Linked DNA regions of Homo sapiens. The protein of the gene in region 4 purifies or fractionates together with the protein of the main gene of each other region. This does not show direct contact. Each region holds a gene or a part of one and is shown on either strand. Other genes may lie near its edges.

What was found. Proteins that work in one complex are often made in the same cells at the same time.
Region 1: the proteins of SHCBP1 (region 4) and ZFP91 fractionate together in Homo sapiens (co-fractionation; one large-scale study listed by BioGRID). This does not show direct contact.
Region 2: the proteins of SHCBP1 (region 4) and CDK11B purify together in Homo sapiens (affinity purification with mass spectrometry, with the first as the bait; one large-scale study listed by BioGRID). This does not show direct contact.
Region 3: the proteins of SHCBP1 (region 4) and TBC1D30 purify together in Homo sapiens (affinity purification with western blotting; one study listed by BioGRID). This does not show direct contact.

What each region holds. Positions count from the first base shown.
Region 1 is NC_000011.10:58,612,685-58,617,062, reverse strand, and holds part of ZFP91 (E3 ubiquitin-protein ligase ZFP91), read right to left. Parts: intron 4,302-4,378; coding exon 4,223-4,301; intron 2,835-4,222; coding exon 2,720-2,834; intron 348-2,719; coding exon 248-347; intron 1-247. UniProt on the Homo sapiens protein: Atypical E3 ubiquitin-protein ligase that mediates 'Lys-63'-linked ubiquitination of MAP3K14/NIK, leading to stabilize and activate MAP3K14/NIK. It thereby acts as an activator of the non-canonical NF-kappa-B2/NFKB2 pathway.
Region 2 is NC_000001.11:1,642,005-1,646,382, reverse strand, and holds part of CDK11B (cyclin-dependent kinase 11B), read left to right. Parts: intron 1-1,093; coding exon of another isoform or gene 1,094-1,120; coding exon 1,121-1,257; intron 1,258-3,874; coding exon 3,875-3,997; coding exon of another isoform or gene 3,998-4,036; intron 4,037-4,378. UniProt on the Homo sapiens protein: Plays multiple roles in cell cycle progression, cytokinesis and apoptosis. Involved in pre-mRNA splicing in a kinase activity-dependent manner. Isoform 7 may act as a negative regulator of normal cell cycle progression.
Region 3 is NC_000012.12:64,830,269-64,834,646, forward strand, and holds part of TBC1D30 (TBC1 domain family member 30), read left to right. Parts: intron 1-108; coding exon 109-234; intron 235-1,850; coding exon 1,851-2,036; intron 2,037-4,378. UniProt on the Homo sapiens protein: May act as a GTPase-activating protein for Rab family protein(s).
Region 4 is NC_000016.10:46,596,467-46,601,723, forward strand, and holds part of SHCBP1 (SHC SH2 domain-binding protein 1), read right to left. Parts: intron 3,497-5,257; coding exon 3,365-3,496; intron 1,882-3,364; coding exon of another isoform or gene 1,820-1,881; exon of another isoform or gene 893-1,819; intron 1-892. UniProt on the Homo sapiens protein: May play a role in signaling pathways governing cellular proliferation, cell growth and differentiation. May be a component of a novel signaling pathway downstream of Shc. Acts as a positive regulator of FGF signaling in neural progenitor cells.

The DNA.
Region 1 (4,378 bases), on a different chromosome or scaffold from region 4:
TAACATACTTCTTTTGAAGGATTGGGAAATGTTACTAGATGGAAAACTAATCTGATCTTCTTCTGTTTGCCTGAAAAACAGAGGGAAACTAAGAAAAAGGCTACTAACTAATGCCCCCAATCAATATCCACTCATTTATTTGATGAAAGTAAACAGCAGTGGCAACTAATATGTTTGTAAAGCGGCAAACCTTCAAGTAGGGCATATATCCTTCTCACCCAGATGTTCACCAGTAAATAATACTCACTGTAATGGCTTCTCGCCAGTGTGAATCATCCGGTGCACTGCCAGATTGTGGGAACTCTTGAAGGCCCGAGCACAATATTCACAGATATAATCCCTTTGATCTATGAAGAAAATACTGTGGTTAGTGTTCTATTTAGATACCCTGTAAATATTTTCCCTTACAGTAAGTAAGCAGATGATGGGGCAGGCAATTTAGAGTAAAAGCAATGCTGTTTTCAATGTATAAACACTTTGGGTAAACAAAATTTAAAAAAGAAAAGTATTGCTTTAAAAAAAATCCAACATTCAGTAGCATAAGGACCTGTTTAAAAAAAAACAAAAACAAACAGAAAAACTAGATAAAAATATAAGAAATGGAATCCTAATCTCAATTTTACCACTAATCCAGGTCTTGGATACCAAGTGGTTAGCAAGTAAACAACTATATTTTCCATATATTTTACTCCTTTAAGGAGTAAACAATTTTTTTCACAGACAATGAAAACTGAATGATTACACAGAAAGAATCTGGCATTCAAACAAAACAAAAACAAAAAACAAGAACTTGGCACTGTATAGAAGAAAACTGATCTAAAGGTAATCATACCCTGTTTCAGGTTTAAAAAATGTTACTCAAGATAAACTTTTCTCAAAAGACTGGAGTTGCTGCTATCAAATATATGTAAATAACACCTGTACTACTTTACCTTATTCTCCTACCCATCTTCTGCACCTTTCAACTACCTCCCTTTGTCACTCACAACACCCTCAACCCCATTATGCAGGATTTCTGATGAATGTGGTAACACGGTGTGGAATCTATGAGGAGGAAAAAGGAGCATTGTACTTATTCATTTCTTTACCGTGTTTGGGAAGCCCGTGCACAAAGAGATGCTCTCTATATATATTTGTTGAATTAATGACCACTACATTTTCTACTCCTTTTGCTTCAAATTACCAGAATTAATGAGAATGAAAACATGAATTTAAGTTAAAAGGTGAACAATATCCAATTTAATCTTATACTCCTTTCCAAACAGCTTAGAGATCACCTGGATAGCTTATTAAATGTATATGCTGATTCAGCAGGTCTGAAGCAGGGCCTGAGATTCTGTATCTCTAATAAGAACCCAAATGATGTCAATGCTGGTTGGTCTGTATTCCATACTTTATATAGCAAGGTCTAAAAACGCACAGTTCTAACTTAGGAAACTCTTAGCATCTCCCAGGTCATGTCCACATTTCCAGTTCCATAGCAGGACAAACCTGTGTGGGGCATCTATTTGCTAAATAAATGACATTTGCAAAAAAAAGTCTGTATATACTAATTTGCAAAAGTAAAACATCATAAATTGTATTAACCAAATATAAATATTTGAAATGGACTGAATTTATAAAAGTTTTTCATACGCTTTTGATATTTAACTAAAACAATCTAAAGTGGCTGTCAGAAACAACTTTTCTATGGCATAAAACAGTATTAACAGGGAGCAGAAGGAACAGAGAAATTGCAGTACCTATCAAGAAACAGAAATAACTGTTACTTGTGGAAATAACTCTGAAGAAACATGGTATAAGAAAACTGTAGACTTTGGAGTGATTAAGATTCAAGTTCAATCCTGGTATTGTGCCAGGCTCTGTGTAGTCAATAGCATTTTATGTTATCTCATTTCATCCCTACAATAACTGATATTGGTATCCTTAATACACAGAGAAGGAAAAGTGAAAAGAGAAGTTAAGTAACTTTCCTACAGTAAATGAAGGAGTTATTTCATTTATCAGTATGACCTTGGGCAGGAGACATATTTCTACAACTAGAATTCCTAGACTTACTCTCTAAGACTGTTGAGAAGGTAATGTGTAATTATCAAGTGTCTGGGACATACTCAGTGGTATGCACCCAATTTGTTCCTATTAGGTACACTGCACTGAGATGGTCAGTGGTTACAAATAAATTGAATTTGAGTCTATTCTATAATACATATTGCAGACACTCAGCAACTCTTTTTGACAGTTCCTATGGGAGTTTACATGCAAATTCAACAGCTAGACTTCACAGTTTCAATAGCAGCAGAGTATTATGCTTCTCCTAAAAACTAGCTATGTGACCATGGGCAGGTTACTTAATCCTGCCAAGCTTCTAGTTTCTTAGCTGTAAAATAAGATCAATATAAACAAATTTAGTGGTGTTGAATAGACTAATTAGCAATAATATACATAACGTATTTAGTCCACAGTTGATACAGAATAAATGCTCAATAGAAGATCATTATCCCGGTCATAGAAGTTCAAGAAGTCAAAGGATAAAAATTCAAAAGTCCTAGTCTGCCCATCCCTTGTAAAATTTGTCTTACTACATTTTATTTTCACACCTTTTCCCCGCACTTGACTATAGAATCTTTTAAGACTTATGTTAGAAAAACGTTATCATTACCAACATGCAAAACTAAAGCACAGTGCAATTACCTACTTGATAAACACATTTTAAAAGTACCTGTATGATGTTTGGCATGTCGCAGAAGTTGCTTCTGAAGCCTGAAGAGTCGTCCACAGGAGGGATGGGGACATACATATTTCTTCTTCAGCAAATGCTGGTATTTAATGTGGTGCTAAAACAGAGAAAGTGAAAGGGGCGAAAAAAAAAAAATTAAGGCTTCCTGAAAGTACTTGTCTTTGCTAAGTCAAAAGTACTGAAGGAAAACCAAATACTTAGATTTCACACATGGATAGTGAGGGAGTATAATAAAGTGGCTAAGAACATAGGTGGAAATACACAGACCTGGTTTCCAATCTGGGTCTGTCATTCACTAGCCTTTGTAATCTTAGGAGACAAATATTTCAAGCTCCAGTTCTCATTTGTAAAATGGAGGTAACAATAACCATCTCAAAGTGTTGTTATGGGGATAAGAGATTATGTATTGTACTGTGCTTTAGAGCAGCAAATGGCACACAGCAGAGGAGGAGCGGCTATTGTTATAACTGAACCACGATCCAGAAGAAGGCCTTCGTGTCATGTTATATTTGTTGCTGAAGATCAAACAGGTATTTCCTAAGCAGTATTTCACTTTCACGTTTCCTGCCAGACCTAAATATAAGTGGTACGTTTACTCATCAAAAATAATAATAATAATCTACTCAAGAAAAATAAAAACAAAACCTCAACTAAAAGTCTTTTATTCATTCTACACAGTACCCAAGAAATCACAGGTTTGAGTTCTAATTTTACTTTTTTTCTAAATCACTTTAAAATAAAATGTTACTCTGTATTTACACCACATTGGGAATTACTGTAATATTGAAAGATTCCAACGAAAGTTCTCTATGTGGGTTCAGATTCTTAGTCACCTCTTTTTAAACAGGAGGTGCTATGAATTTGGATGTGTTCACCACAGTTCATGTGTTGGAAACTTAATCCCCAATGTGATAGTGTTGGAAGGCGGGACCTAATGGGAGGTGCTTAGGTCTTAAAGGCTCTACCCTTATATAAATGGGTTGATATTATCATTGGAGTAGATTTGTTACAAAAGCAAGTTCAACCCATTCTTGCCCTTCCACCATGGGCTGACACAGTTAAAAGGCTCTTGTGAGATGTGGGCACCATGCTTTTGGACTTTCCAGTCTCCAGAACCACAAGCTAATAAATAAATATATGTTCTTTGTAAATTACCCAGTCTCAGGTACTCTATTATAGCAGCACAAATGGACTAATCATGATTAACCCATTTATGCTGGAGGTTGCAAATGTATTTTTGTGAAAAATCAGACCTTGGTGATGACCTTGAACAGTAGGATATAAATAACTTGCCCAAGCTTAGCATTCTAATAATGGAACACTAGGCATAAATGGGTTAAAGTCATTTTATGTTTAAAGAAAGACTTTTCTTGACATTACATGTCAATGATAAAGCCTACACAAGCCAACAAATTAAAGTCTCGTGGTGCAAGAACAAGTAATGGAACACAACCTGAAAGGCTCTTATATAACAACTTCACTGACCTGCAAATAGCGAGGATGGGCAAGGACAGTTCCACATCCTTCCATCTCACAACGGACATACTGGATTGGAGGCTTTTTTCTATTATCAAAATGCAGAAGAAAAGTTAGCAAAAAAAAAAAAGTGGTACTCTGCACAGTGGCCTCTGACTTAAACTG
Region 2 (4,378 bases), on a different chromosome or scaffold from region 4:
AACCACTAAGAAAGTTGTTTTCTTAGTGTTTTAAAAAGTACAAATAAATTAAAATGGTATGCTAAACATATGTAATTTAAAATCAAAAAGGGAAGAATAAAAAAGACACAACAAAGCAAGGAAAGTAAATCCAACTGTACGTGTAATTATATGACATGTGAAAGGTCTCTGTGCCCCAAACAGACAGGGCAGATTATCAGATAGAAAAACAAGATCTAACTGTATGCTGTCTGCTAGAGAACAGGAAAAGACGCAGCGTACAAACATCAGCTGTCATAGGAGAGCTTGAATGGCTGTACTCATACCAGACAAAACAGATGTTAAGAAATATTAGAAACCAGCCTGGCCAACATGGTGAAACCCTGTCTCTACAAAAATCACCTGGGTGTGGTGGCGCACACCTGTAATCCCAGCTACTCGGGAGGCTCAGGTATGAGAATCACTTGAACTCGTGAGATGGAGGTTGCAGTGAGCCGAGATTGCGCCACTGCACTCCAGCCTGGGTGACAAACCAAGACCCTGTCTCAAAAAAAAGCTAGAAACAAGAAGGAGCAAGGACTTCACAGCCAGAAACAGGCCAATACAGCAGGAAGATACAGCAATGATACGTGTGAATGCATCTAACCACAGAGCCCAAAATCCATGAAGCAAACACCGATCGAATGGAAAGAAATGGATCATTTATTAATTAGAATTGGAAATGGCAGCTGGGCACGGTGGCTCGGGCCTGTAAACCCAGCACTTTGAAAAGCGGAGGCAGGCGGATCACGAGGTCAGGAGATTGAGACCATCCTGGCTAACATGGTGAAACCCTCGTCTCTACTAAAAATACAAAAATTAGCTGGGAGTACAGGGCGCACGCCTGTAATCCCAGCTACTCGGGAGGCTGAGGCAGGAGAATCGCTCGAACCCGGGAGGCGGAGGTTGCAGTGAGCCGAGATCGCGCCACCGCACTCCAGCCTGGGGGACAGATGAAGACTCCGTCTCAAAGAAAATAAAATAAAAAAATGAAAAAAAAACTTCACGGATTGAATTACGTAGAAAGCCAGTTTACAAATGTGGACAAAAACGCGATAAGCAAGCTTCTGTTTAGGGGGAATGATGGCGTGTGCCTCTTCAGGGACCGCTTGGAGCAGTTAGAAAGGAAGCGGGAGCGGGAGCGCAAGATGCGGGAGCAGCAGAAGGAGCAGCGGGAGCAGAAGGAGCGCGAGCGGCGGGCAGAGGAGCGGCGCAAGGAGCGGGAGGCCCGCAGGGAAGGTAGGCGGCGCGGTGGGCAGCTGTGCTCGGCGGGACGCGTGTCTGCTGCCCCCTGGTGCTGGGCACTTGCTGTCACAGGCGGGCGCTTGGTTCCGGTGCTTGCTTTTCGCCCCTGCCTTTTTTTTTTTTTTGGAGGCAGAGTTTTGCTCTTGTCCCCCAGGCTGGAGTGCGGTGGCGCGATCTCGGCTCACTGCACCCTCTGCCTCCCGGGTTCAAGTGATCCTCCTGCCTCAGCCTCCGGAGTAGCAGGGATTACAGGCACCCGCCACCATGTTCAGCTATTTTTTTATATTTTTAGTAGAGACAGGGTTTCACCGTGTTAGCCAGAATAGTCTCTTGATCTCTTGGCCTCGTGATCCACCCACCTCGGCCTCCCAAAGTGCTGCGATTACAGGCGTGAGCCACCGCGGCCGGCCAGTACGAGCTTTTATAGTCACCCACGTCCTCACCTTAATGGAGATCTTTATTTCTTCACCCAGCTTCCGGTTTCTGTCTCGCGTCCTTTCCTTACACCCCACACAACTCCCTGGAGCTTATTCTTCAAGGCAGGTCTAGGTCTAGTAGTAATGAACTCCCTCTGCTTTTGTTTATCTGAGAATATCCTCATTTCTCCCTCATCTTTGAAGGAAAGTTTGCTGGATACGTGGTTCTTGGTTGACAATTTTGTTGTTGTTGTTTTGAGACAGAGTCTTCTTCTGTTGCCCAGGCTGGAGTGCAGTGGAGCGATCATAGCTCACTGCAACCTCGAACTCCTGGGCACAAGTGATCTTCCCACCTCAGCCTCCCGCGTAGCTGGGACCTACAGGCGTAGCGTGTGCCACCACACCTGGCTCATTTTTCAGTAGAAACAAGGTGTCCCTGTATTGCCCAGGCTGGTCTTGAATTCCTGGGCTCAAGGAACCCTCATGCCTAGCTGACAGTTTTTCCTTTTCACTTGGACTATTTCAGCCCATTGTCTTCTGGCCTCCAAAGTTTCTGATGAGAAATCTGATGATCTTATAGAGGATCCCTTGGATGCTTTAATCTGATGACCTGATTGAGGATCCCTTGGATGCTTTGAAGATTCTCTTTGCCTTAGGCTTTCAACTGTTTAATAATGGGTTTTCCTGTGGGCCTCTTGACTTCATTCTACCTGGAGTTCACTGAGCCTCTCTAATGTTTATATTTACGGTTTTCATCCAATGTGGGGGTTTTGAGGAATTCTTCAGATACCCTCTCTGCTCCTCTCCTCCCTCCTGGGCTCCCACAGATCTGTTGGGGTCCCCGAGGCCGCTCAGCACTGCTCCCTTTTCTTCAGTCTCTTCTGCTTTCTTTTCCTCAGACGATGTGATTTTATTGTCTTCAGGCTCACCGATTATTTCTTCTGCCTGCTCACATCTGCCTGTGAGTTTCTGTTGTGAATATTTACTTTTTAGTGTCTATTGTGAGCATGTACTTATTAGCTCTGGAATTTCTCTCTGGTTTCTTGTTGGATCTTCTGTCTCTGTTGATATTTCCGTCGTGTTCACGCGTCATTTTCTTGACTTTCTCCACATCTTCCTTTCGTTCTCTGAGGAACTGAAGGTTAAGACAGTTCCCTAAAGTCTTTGGGACATCTACCGTCAGGTGATTTTCAGGAACCGTGTCTGTTGGCTTCTTTTTTTCCCCTCTGAATGGGACATACTGTCCTATTTCTTTGTTTCTCTTGTGTTTTTCTTAGTCAAAAAAATGGACATTTGATTCTCATGATGTGATTCTTCCTGGTCCCCACTCAAGGGTGTGCACTTGTTGTTTTGGTTGTGCTGGGCTGTGTCTGTGGGGTCGGCCTGTTGTGGAAACTCAGGGTCTTCACGGGTCTTTTCTGAGCCTGAGCCTTTTCCTGGTCACGTGCAGCCACTTTTTAACGTTCCCGTCAATACAGATGTTTTTAATGTTCTTGTCCTGAAGTGTCTGCCTCCTAAAGGGGGAATAGAGAGAAATGAAGGGGGCAACGGGGGACGTGGTGCTCATGCCCTGGAAGTACCTTCAGCTTGGGGGTGGCCGTGGCTGCTGCCTCTTCATGCCTCTGGGGTGGGACACGCAGTCATCACACTGACCTCGGGTGTGTGTGTCCGTCTGCCCACCTGGGTCCGGCGAGCTGCATGCAGGCTGCTGCCTGCCAGCGGGGAGTGAGGTGGGAGCCACTAATGTGCGAAGCGGTGACGTTGATTAATGAATCACAGTTTACTCTCCAAGATTCCCCCTGAAGTTGCAAACCTTCAGTAGACTCCAGAGCACCTCAGTAGTTGCACAGGCCTGATCCTGTGATGCAAGTGTTGTCTCGGTGGGGAGACTGATTCCCAGTGCTTCCTACTCCATCTTTCCAGAATCTTCTCCCGCCCCTTCCTTTTTGACCAGTGAAGATCAGTCTAGAAGGTCCACCTGGGTCCTCGGGCTCACGGCCTCCAGGTTGGAGCTTTTTCTCCCTGGGCTTCCTGGGAGACCTCTGGCCTCTGACCCCGATGCTGTCAGCACCCTGTGCACGCTGTGGGTGTGTCTGCCAGGTGCGGGTGTGGGAGACGAGGCAGCTGTGCCGGGTGGGGCCTTTTGAGGAAGGCAGTGCTGCTAGTGCCATCTCCCTCTCTGCCCTGCGCGCCAGTGTCTGCACATCACCGAACGATGAGAGAGGACTACAGCGACAAAGTGAAAGCCAGCCACTGGAGTCGCAGCCCGCCTCGGCCGCCGCGGGAGCGGTTCGAGTTGGGAGACGGCCGGAAGCCAGGTGAGGCCAGGCCGGCGCCTGCGCAGAAGCCAGCACAGTGTGAGTCTTTTCTGGGGGATGTTTGGCATAAGTGTGTAGGATTCATTTAAAGCCCAGCTAAGTAACCGCTTCAGAAGAAAGTGAGAGATGTGCTGGCTGAAGTCCTCTCGTGTCGTGAGAGGGACCGTGAGTGTCTGTGTGCGGCCAGGACACAGGACGTGTGTTTATCCGCTGGGACATTCGCCACTGGCCCCGTTAGAGAAGTGGCTTCCAGCGTCTCTGGATGAGCTGGTTTCCGACCAAGCAAAGTTAATCGTTACGTGAAAGGCACTAGTTTTGGGGTGGTGGTAGCTTGTTTGTTTAAAAACATTTCCCCAAATTCACCTTTATGGTTTATCTCAT
Region 3 (4,378 bases), on a different chromosome or scaffold from region 4:
GTCTAGGGACACTTCCCATTTTCTTGTCGAATGCAATAACTACTTTCTAATAAAGGTGAAGTTATATATTCTACTTTGGCATTCTCCTTTGTCTATGTAATATTTTAGGTTTGGTTGACCTTGGCAGATCATTATTTGCACAGTATAGCCATTGACTGGGACAAAACCATGCGCTTCACTTTCAATGAAAGGAGTAATCCTGATGATGACTCCATGGGAATTCAGATAGTCAAGGTAATGCCCCTGAACTTGGCCTGTCATCCTAATATAGAAGAAAGACTCTAAAAGCCAGTTGCTTTTTGGACAGAGGATCAAATGATCTCTACCTTCTGGTTTGAATGTCTGTATATTTTCTGCCTTCTCATTTCATTAGCTTTTTCATGGGGAACCTTGACAATGTGTTGTCTGCATAAATTTAAATGTTACCGGTAAGAAGAAAATATTTGCAAATGAGCTTTCATTCACATTCAACTTATTAATCTTCCTCACACTATAGGAAGGACGCTTTGTCATGGGTCAATGATGCCAACTGGATTTTTATATAAAAGTCACTGATTGAAAAAGTTAGTTAAGTATATTTCATATGAGAATGATTTGGTTCTTATTAGGGTCTTTGATAGTTTCTTAACTGCCAATTTCTAAAGACAGGTTCACAGGTGGGGCCTACTTCCAACCAAATACTTGTGGGTTCAAGCCAGCTGTGTAGGCAGTTGTGGCTCGCTTACCTGGATTATTACAGTTGAACAGAGCCTGGTGCTAAAAGCCAAGGATACTGATTCTGTTTGATCCCAGTATTATCCTCTTACATAAGGCTCTAGCACATGGTTTTTGATTTTATATGAGTACATTACAGTGTGATACTCAGCTGGGGTTTTAAAAGGAAAGTTGTTTCATCCAAATTTTGGCCACCTCAAGATGGCTAATGTTTTGGCATATTTGGAGGTTTTTTTTTAAGGAGGAAGTACTAACTAAAATGAGCTACTTTCTGTTCTAACTTGGTTTCAGACAAATGCTAAAAAAGTTATGCAATTTTACATTGTGTACTAAAAAGCCTTTGCATTATTCACATTTAAGCTATATATTTGGAATTTTAGAATATGTTTCGCAGAGATGAAGTATCTCATATTTGAAATATTTCCTTTTTGTCTAACTGGTGAATTAAGGCAATGCACCTTTTGTAACAATCATCTTTTAAGAGTATCTTTTGTTTTCTCATTGAAGTGAATGCTGTGTCAGTTAATGACTTCAGCTCTTGAAAATTGTAGTTCCTGCTTAGTAATTAAATTATAGATATTGCCTTCATTAAAGCATAGCAAATATTTCTGTCTTTCTTATATACATTCATAAAATAATTTGAATAGAATGATTTTTCTCTCTATAATCACATTTTTTGCTATTTTGATTTCACTCCTTTATGTTATTTAGAGTTTTGATAGCTAAATATTATACTTTATTTGTAGAAAGGAAGAATGTTAGCCTCAATCATACATGTATTGTGATGACTATTGTTTTACCTGAGAAATATTATTAAAACAATCAATTTACATGAAATTATACTGTAATTATTGTTAATTCTGAGCTACTTTTTGTGGTAATCCTGGAAACGTTTTAAGTTGAAAATTTGCCTGACTGAAATTCCCCTTGCAAATCTCTCTTAAACAGCATATTACAAAATATTATGAAAAAGAAAGCTAAAAATGCATTTTGGCTCATATGTATAAAAACATACACATTTTAAAAAAATTTTATGTCGATGATTTGACTCTGTTTATTGAGTCAAAAAAAAAAGGTATTGTTTTGGAAAGAATATTAGGAGTTATTTTTGAAAATATTGTTTCCCTTCCATTTAGGACCTTCACCGCACAGGCTGTAGTTCTTACTGTGGCCAGGAGGCTGAGCAGGACAGGGTTGTGTTGAAGCGGGTGCTGCTGGCCTATGCCCGATGGAACAAAACTGTTGGGTACTGCCAAGGCTTTAACATCCTGGCTGCACTAATTCTGGAAGTGATGGAAGGCAATGAAGGGGATGCCCTGAAAGTGAGTAGCAGGCTCTGACAAAGGCCATGGACATTCTTCTGAGAGTGAGAAATTGGAACCATAATTTCTCTTCCTTGATGTCTCATCCTTTTCCAAGGTGTTTGCCACACCTTTGTAATGACCTATGATAGCATTTCCTCCAGGTTAGAGCCATGTCAAGTGACAGATTCATGTAGCTGCCAACTATGAGGCAAATGATTATGTATTTAGTCTCATTTATAAGACATCATATTTTTAAAGCAAGTTAAATATTAATTGTATTAATTATTCATTGCTGTTCAACAAATTAGCTGCTTAAAACAGCAAATGTATTATCTTACAGTTTCTTTGCGTCAGAAATCTAGGCACAGCCTAACTGCCTCAAGGACACATCACTGTTGCTGTTGGTTGGTGTTGCGATCTCATCTGAAGGCTCAATTGGGGGTGGGCATTGGCTTTCGAGTTTGTTTATGTGGTTGTTAGCAAGATTTAATTCCTCACAGGCTGTTGGACTGAGGCCATGGTTCCTTGCTGGCTGTTGACTGGAGGCCTTTTATAGTTCCTTGCCATGTAGCCTCTCCATCTCTCAACCCAGTGGCTGGCACCCCCAAAGTGAACATGAGAGTAAAAGATAGTGAGCAAGGCAAAAGAGTTTAAGTTACAGATTTGTAGCCAAACATCAGAAGTGACATCCCACTATATTTCCATATTCTGTTCTTTAGAAGCCAGTCACCAGGTTCAGCTTATAGTCAAGGAGAAGGGCTCATACAAGGGTGTGACTCAGGGGTCATGTTAGAACTGCCTCCCACACTAGTTATGCTTAATTTTGATTGGATTGCCTTATTGAGTTGCTTTACTCTTTCATATTTGGAGCAAGATATGGAGGAGTTGGGCTGAGAGTGAGTGTCTAAGGAAGGTGTTTGCATGGAGAAGCATTATGGAATTGACTTACATTAATATCTTTTAATCTTTGATGCCTACGACCTTTATTAGTTAAAACAAATTTTAAAAACATGTTGAGATGGGGCACTAGTGATTTAAGCTTAGTTTGCATGTGTGTCAGTGAGTCACCAGAAATAGAGTGCTTATGAGAAATGAAGCATTTTAAATGTGGAGGCTAATGCCTATTTGCTTAAGGCAATGTGGGATTACTAATTCATATTTGAACCTTTAAACTGCTCTTGATTGCAATGCTTTGTGATGTATGAGATAGATACTTAGTCTTCGTGTTCAAGAACCGCCCCCCGACACAACCCCACTCCCAACAACTTGTGTTTGACTATGGTGAATACCTTATTGATACTGTCAATCACTGATTAATGTGATGTGGAAAAATAAACAAATGTTCCTCTTGGTTTTATACAAATGATGGTGGACTAGTTATAAATCCAGCTTGACATGATCTAAATCTGTATTCAACCTCTCACTTTTTCCATTGATGTATTTAAGGAAGCAGCTTTGAAGTTACTTGTTCATCAAAAAGGTGAGGGTAGGAGAGGGAGGAAGGCAGTGACAAATACATGACTTTAAGATGTTTTTTATTAAGAAGCAATTTTGTTTACTCAGTCTATCAGCTTTCATCAGTTTTTTTTTTCAGATGGAATTGGTATGATGATAAAATGGGAATTGTTTTCTAGAGCAATTGGAATAAGTGAATCAAGTTAGGGGGTCGGATGGAGATGTTCAGGGAAGGAAATGTACATGCCAATCAAATTATAAAAGGGCTCAGTAATACTTGAGAAACTGGAAATTAAAAACTCACGTAAAAATATGGATTAGATAAAGATGAGAAACTGAATATTTCAGCCCCCACGAAAATGGGCTCCATGCAATGAGATGATGTCATCATCCTTTAAGAGTGTATAGATCTTGTGTTTAGACATTTAATATGCAGAGGAAGGTTGGCTTCATGAAGAAACACTTCTGATGTTGAGGAAAATATTGGACATCTATTTTTTCAGCATGGCCTCTACAAGTCATAATTACTAAGGAAACATATAGTTTATTAGAAATAGGTGAACCATTTTTCCTGCTATTTAGCACTTAAGTTTTTACTTAGCAAATCTTTCATTTTCAACCTTTTGTTAAAAATTCAGAGCTCTCCCATTATTTAGCCAAATCTTTTTTTTTTTTTTTTTTTTGAGATAGAGTCTTGCTCTGTCACCCAGGCTAGAGTGCAGTGGCATGATCTTGTCTCACTGCAACCTCCACCTTCCAGGTTCAAGCAATTCTCCTGCCTCAGCCTCCCGAGTAGCTGGGATTACAGGTATACACCACCACGCCCAGCAAATTTTTATATTTTTAGTAGAGATGGGGTTTCACCATGTTGACCAGGCTGGTCTCAAACTCCTGACCTCTCAGGT
Region 4 (5,257 bases):
ACTGCACTCCAGCCTGGGTGACAGAGTGAGACCTCTGCCTCTTGGTTTCAAGTGATTCTCCTGCCTCAGCCTCCTGAGTAGCTGGGATTACAGGCGCCTGCCACCACACCCAGCTAATTTTTGTATTTTTTAGTAGAGACAGGGTTTCATCATGTTGGCCAGGCTAGTCTCGAACTCCTGACCTCAGGTGATTCACCCGCCTCAGCCTCCCAAAGTGTTGGGATTACAGGCATAAGCCACTGCGCCCAGCCTAAATGAGTAAACTTTTTTTTTTTTTTGGAGACGGAGCCTTGCTCTGTTGCCTGGGCTGGAGTGCAGTGGTGCGATCTTGGCTCACTGCAACCTCTGCTTCCCAGGTTCAAGGAATTCTCCTGCTTCAGCCTCCAGAGTAGATGGCATCATAGGCGTGTATCACCACACCTGGCTAGTTTTTGTATTTTTAGTAGAGACAGGGTTCCACCATGTTCGCCAGGCTGGTCTCAAACTCCTGACCTCAGGTGATCCACCCTCCTCGGCTGCCCAAAGTGCTGGGATTGCAGGCGTGAGCCACCACGCCCAGCTTCATAAATAATCAGTCTTCCATACACACTCATACTCCAGAGATATTGCAGGTTGAGTTCCAAACCACCACAATAAAGGAAATATCACAATTAAAGTGAGTCACACAATTTTTTTGGTTTCCCAGTGCATACAAATGTTTATGGGAGTCTGGGGTGGGTGGATCACTTAAGGCCAGGAGTCTGAGACCAGCCTGGGCAACATCGTGAAACCCCATCTCTAAAAAATACAAAAATTAGCAAGACGTGATGGCACACGCCTGTAGTCCCAGCTACTTGGGGGGCAAAGGCAGAATTGCTTGAGCCCAGGAGTTTGAGGCTACAGAGAGCTATGATCATGCTATTGCACTCTAGCCTAGATGACAGTGAGACTGTCTCTAAAAACAAAAAAAAATAAAAGTTGTGTTTATACTAATGAGCATATGAGTTTATACTAATGAGTACTATGTTTATAATGCATCTATTAAGTGTACAAAGGCATTATGTTTTTTAACAATATATACATCTTAATTTAAGATACTTTGTTTTGCTAAAACATGCTAACAATCCTCTGAGCCTTCAGCAAGACATAATCTTTTTGCTGGTGGAGGGTCTTACCTCAATGTTGATGGCTGCTTACTGATCAGAATGGTGTTTGCTGAAGGTTAAGGTGGCTATGGCAATTTTTAAAAATAAGACAACAATGAAGTTTGCCACATTGATTGACTCTTCCTTTCATGAAAGGATTTCTCTGTAGCATGTGATCTTGTTTGATAGCACTTTACACACAGTAGAAGGTTTTTCAAAATTGGAGTCAATCCCATCAAAGTCTGCCTCTGCTTTACCAAGTTTACCTAATACTCTAAATCATTTGTTGTCATTCAACCATGTTCACAGCATCCTCCCCAGGAAATTCTATCTCAGGAAACCACCTTCTTCGCTCATCCATAAGAAGCAATTCCTCATCTGTTCCAATTTTGTTATAAGATTGTAGCAATTCAGTCACGTCTTGAGGTTCTACTTGCTATCATCAGGCTCTAGTTCTCTTGCTATTTCCACCACATCTGCAGTTACTTCCTCCATTCAAGTCTTGAACCCCTCAATCATCCATGAGGGCTGGAATCAACTTCTCCAGAACCCCTGTTAATGTTGAGATTTTAACCTCCTCCCATGAATCACAAATGTTCTTAATGACATCTAGAATGATGACTCCTTCCCAGAAACTTTTCAATTGACTTTGCCCAGACCCATCGGAGGAATCACTATCAATAGCTGGTATAGCCTTAGGAAGTGTATTTCTCAAATAGTAAGATTTGAAAGTCGAAATTACTCCTTGATCCATGGGCTGCAGAATGGATATTATTAGCAGGCATGAAAACAACATTAATCTCCCAGTACACCTCCATCATAGCTCTCAGATGACCAGGTACATTGTCAATAAGCAATCATATTTTTAAAGGAATTTTTTTTTTCAGTAGTAAATCTCAATAATGGGCCTAAAATATTCAGTAAACCACATTATAAACAGATGTGCTACCATTCAGGCTTTGTTGTTCCATTTCTAGGGCACAGGCAGAGTAGATCTGGCATAATTCTTAAGGGCTCTAGGATTTTCAGAATGGTAAATGAGCACTGGCTTCAACTTAAAGTCACCAGTTACATTCACTCATAACAAGAGAGTCAGCCTGTCCTTTGAAGCTGTGAAGCCAAGCACTGACTTCTCCTCTCTAACTATGAAAAGTACTAGATGGAATCTTCTTCCAATAGAAGGTTATTTCATCTACACTGAAAATGTGTTGTTTAGTGTATCCACCTTCATCGATTACCTTAGCTAGATCTTCTGGTTAACTTTCTGTAGCTTGCATCAGCACTTGCTGCTTCACCTTGCACTTTTATGTTACAGAAATGGCTGCTTTCCTTAAACCTCATGAACCAACAGCTGCTAGTTTCAAACTCTTCTTCTACAGCTTCCTCACCTCCTTCAGTCTTCACAGAATTGAAGGAAGTTAGGGTTCTGCTCTGCAATACGCTCTGATTTAAGGAATGTGGTGGCTGATTTGATCTTCCATCCAGACTACAGAAACTTTCTCCATATTAGCAATAAGACTGTTTCACTTTCTTATCATTCATGTGTTCACTAGAGTAGTGCTTTTAATTTCCTTTATGAACTTTTCCTTTACATTCAAAACTTCACCAACTGACACAAGAGACCTAGGTGTCAGCCTATCTCAGCTTTCGACATGCCTTCCTCACTATGTTAAACATTTCTAATTTTTAAATTTAACATGAGAGACATGTGACTCTTCCTTTCACTTGAACACATAGATGCCATTGTAGGGTTATTAACTGGCCTAATTTCAATATTGCTGTGTCTCAAGGAATAGGGTAGCCCAAAGAGAAGGAGAGAGATAGGGGAATGGCTGATCGGTGGAACAGTCAAAACCCACACAATTATCAGTTAAGTTCACCATCTTTTATGGATGTGGTTCATGGCACCCCAAAACAATTACAGTAGTAACATCAAGATCACTGTTCACAGATCAGCATATTATCTATATTGTGAGAGTTACCAAAATGTGACACAGAAACACAAGGTGAGCATATGCTCTTGGGAAAATGGTGCCGACAGACTGGCTTGAAACAGGGTTGCCACAACCTTCAATTTGTAAAAAAAAAAAAAAAAAAAAAAACTCAGCATCGTGAAGTGCAATAAAACAAGGTATGCCTGTACTCAAGAGTGGCATTTCATTAAATTCTATCTTCCATAGAGAGAACCGTTTACCTTCAAATCTTAGAACAAATGATATACCAAACATTCAGATACTTACTTAAGATTCCCTCTACAGCATCATGCTGAACAAATTTTATGCCTGAGATTTTAATATCAGCACCAGTGCAGTCCACAAAAGTGTCGCCTTTGCCCCTCTTTTCTATCACAATGTCATCTGGTAGGCCATATCCTAAGGAAGAGAGAGCAACAACACTCAAGATGGGTGAGGAAAAACATCTAAACGTGAACACTGTAGAACAAGTTTCTCTAGTTTAAATGACTGCAGATGATAATGAGACCAGTCAACCATGTTGCATTTAAATAAAATCTATCTCCCCACATATCCTGTTTAATTTAAATCAGGGTATCCAATTTTTAACAATAACAACTCTCTGACTAGTCCCGTATCAGGAAGACTACCCTATCAACTATCCCACATCAGCTCAGTACTAAATTCACTTTCAAAAGTGCTATAAAAAATAAATAATGTTCAAGACCAGCCTAGGCAACACAGTGAGATTCCATCTCTACAAAAACCAAAAAAATTAGTCAGGCATGGTGGCATGCACCAATTACTCACTACTCAAGGAGGCTAAGGTGGGAGGGTCACTTGATCCCAGAATTTTAAGGCTGCAGTAAGCTATGATCATGCCATTGCACTCCAGCCTTCATTCTGGGTGACAGAATGAGACCCCATCTCAAAAAATGATAATAATAATAATAAGGACTTACAGCTGAGTCAAAGAACTTTAAAGCACTCACCCTTAGAAGTTTGTTTCTAACTCTAACATTCTATGATTCTAATATAAATTACATTTGAATAAACCTAAACAGTTCTCAAGATGATCTAATTTTAATATTCTCTTAAACAGTTGGCTTAAAATCTGACAAACTGACTAGTTACAGTTACAGGAAAAAAACAGTCTACCTCATTAACAAATAAAAAGCATCAGATCAAGGCTGGGTACGGTGGCGCACGCCTGTAATCCCAGCACTTTGGGAGGCTGAGGCAGGTGGATCACTTGAGGTCAGGAGTTCAAGAGCAGCCTGGCCAACATACAGAAATCCTGCCTCTACTAAAAATATAAAAATTAGCCGAGTGTGGCATGTGCCTGTAATCCCAGCTTCTCAGGAGGCCGAGGTGGGAGAATTGCTTGAACCTGGGAGGCGGAGATTGCAGTGAGAGGAGATCGTGCCACTGCACTCCAGCCTGGGTGACAGTGACTCTGTCTCAAAAAAAAAGCATCAGATCTCAGTGAGGTGCAGTGGCTCACGCCTATAATCCTAGCACTTTGGGAGGCCAGGGCAGGTGGATCACTTGAGGTCAGGAGTTCGAGACCAGCCTGGCCAACATGGAGAAACCCTGTCTCTACTAAAACTACAAAAATTAGCCAGGCATGGTGGCAGGCACCAGTAATCCCAGCAACTCAGGAGGCTGAGCCAGGAGAATCGCTTGAACCCAGGAGACAGAGGCTGCAGTGAACTGAGATCACACCACTGCACTCCAGCCTGGGCGACAGAGCAAGACTCCACCTCAAAAAAACAAAAACAAAAAAACCATCAGATCTGTATAAATCTTACTCAAACCATTAATGCAAGCCAAACACCTGAGTGGGCTTACAAAAAACTAGAGTATCAGAAAACTAAAGAATTCGCTTGACTTCCATTATAAAACAGAACCACATAGACAAAGCTGTAAGAAATAACTCTCATTGACTAAAGACGAATCTTTGAGTAAATGAAAGCAGTAACTGTTTTTAACAAGCAAAGCCGCTCAATGTATCTACACTGGAAGAGGACAAACAAGGCTTTGGGGGCCCTAGAGAATGCAAGGGGACTCCACACACTGGAATGCTACCAGGGGTGGACTCTGGATGCCTGAATTATGAGTGATTTTGTTTCTGATTGTTGTATGTATCTGACTGTACTTGGCATATTTTCTACAATAACC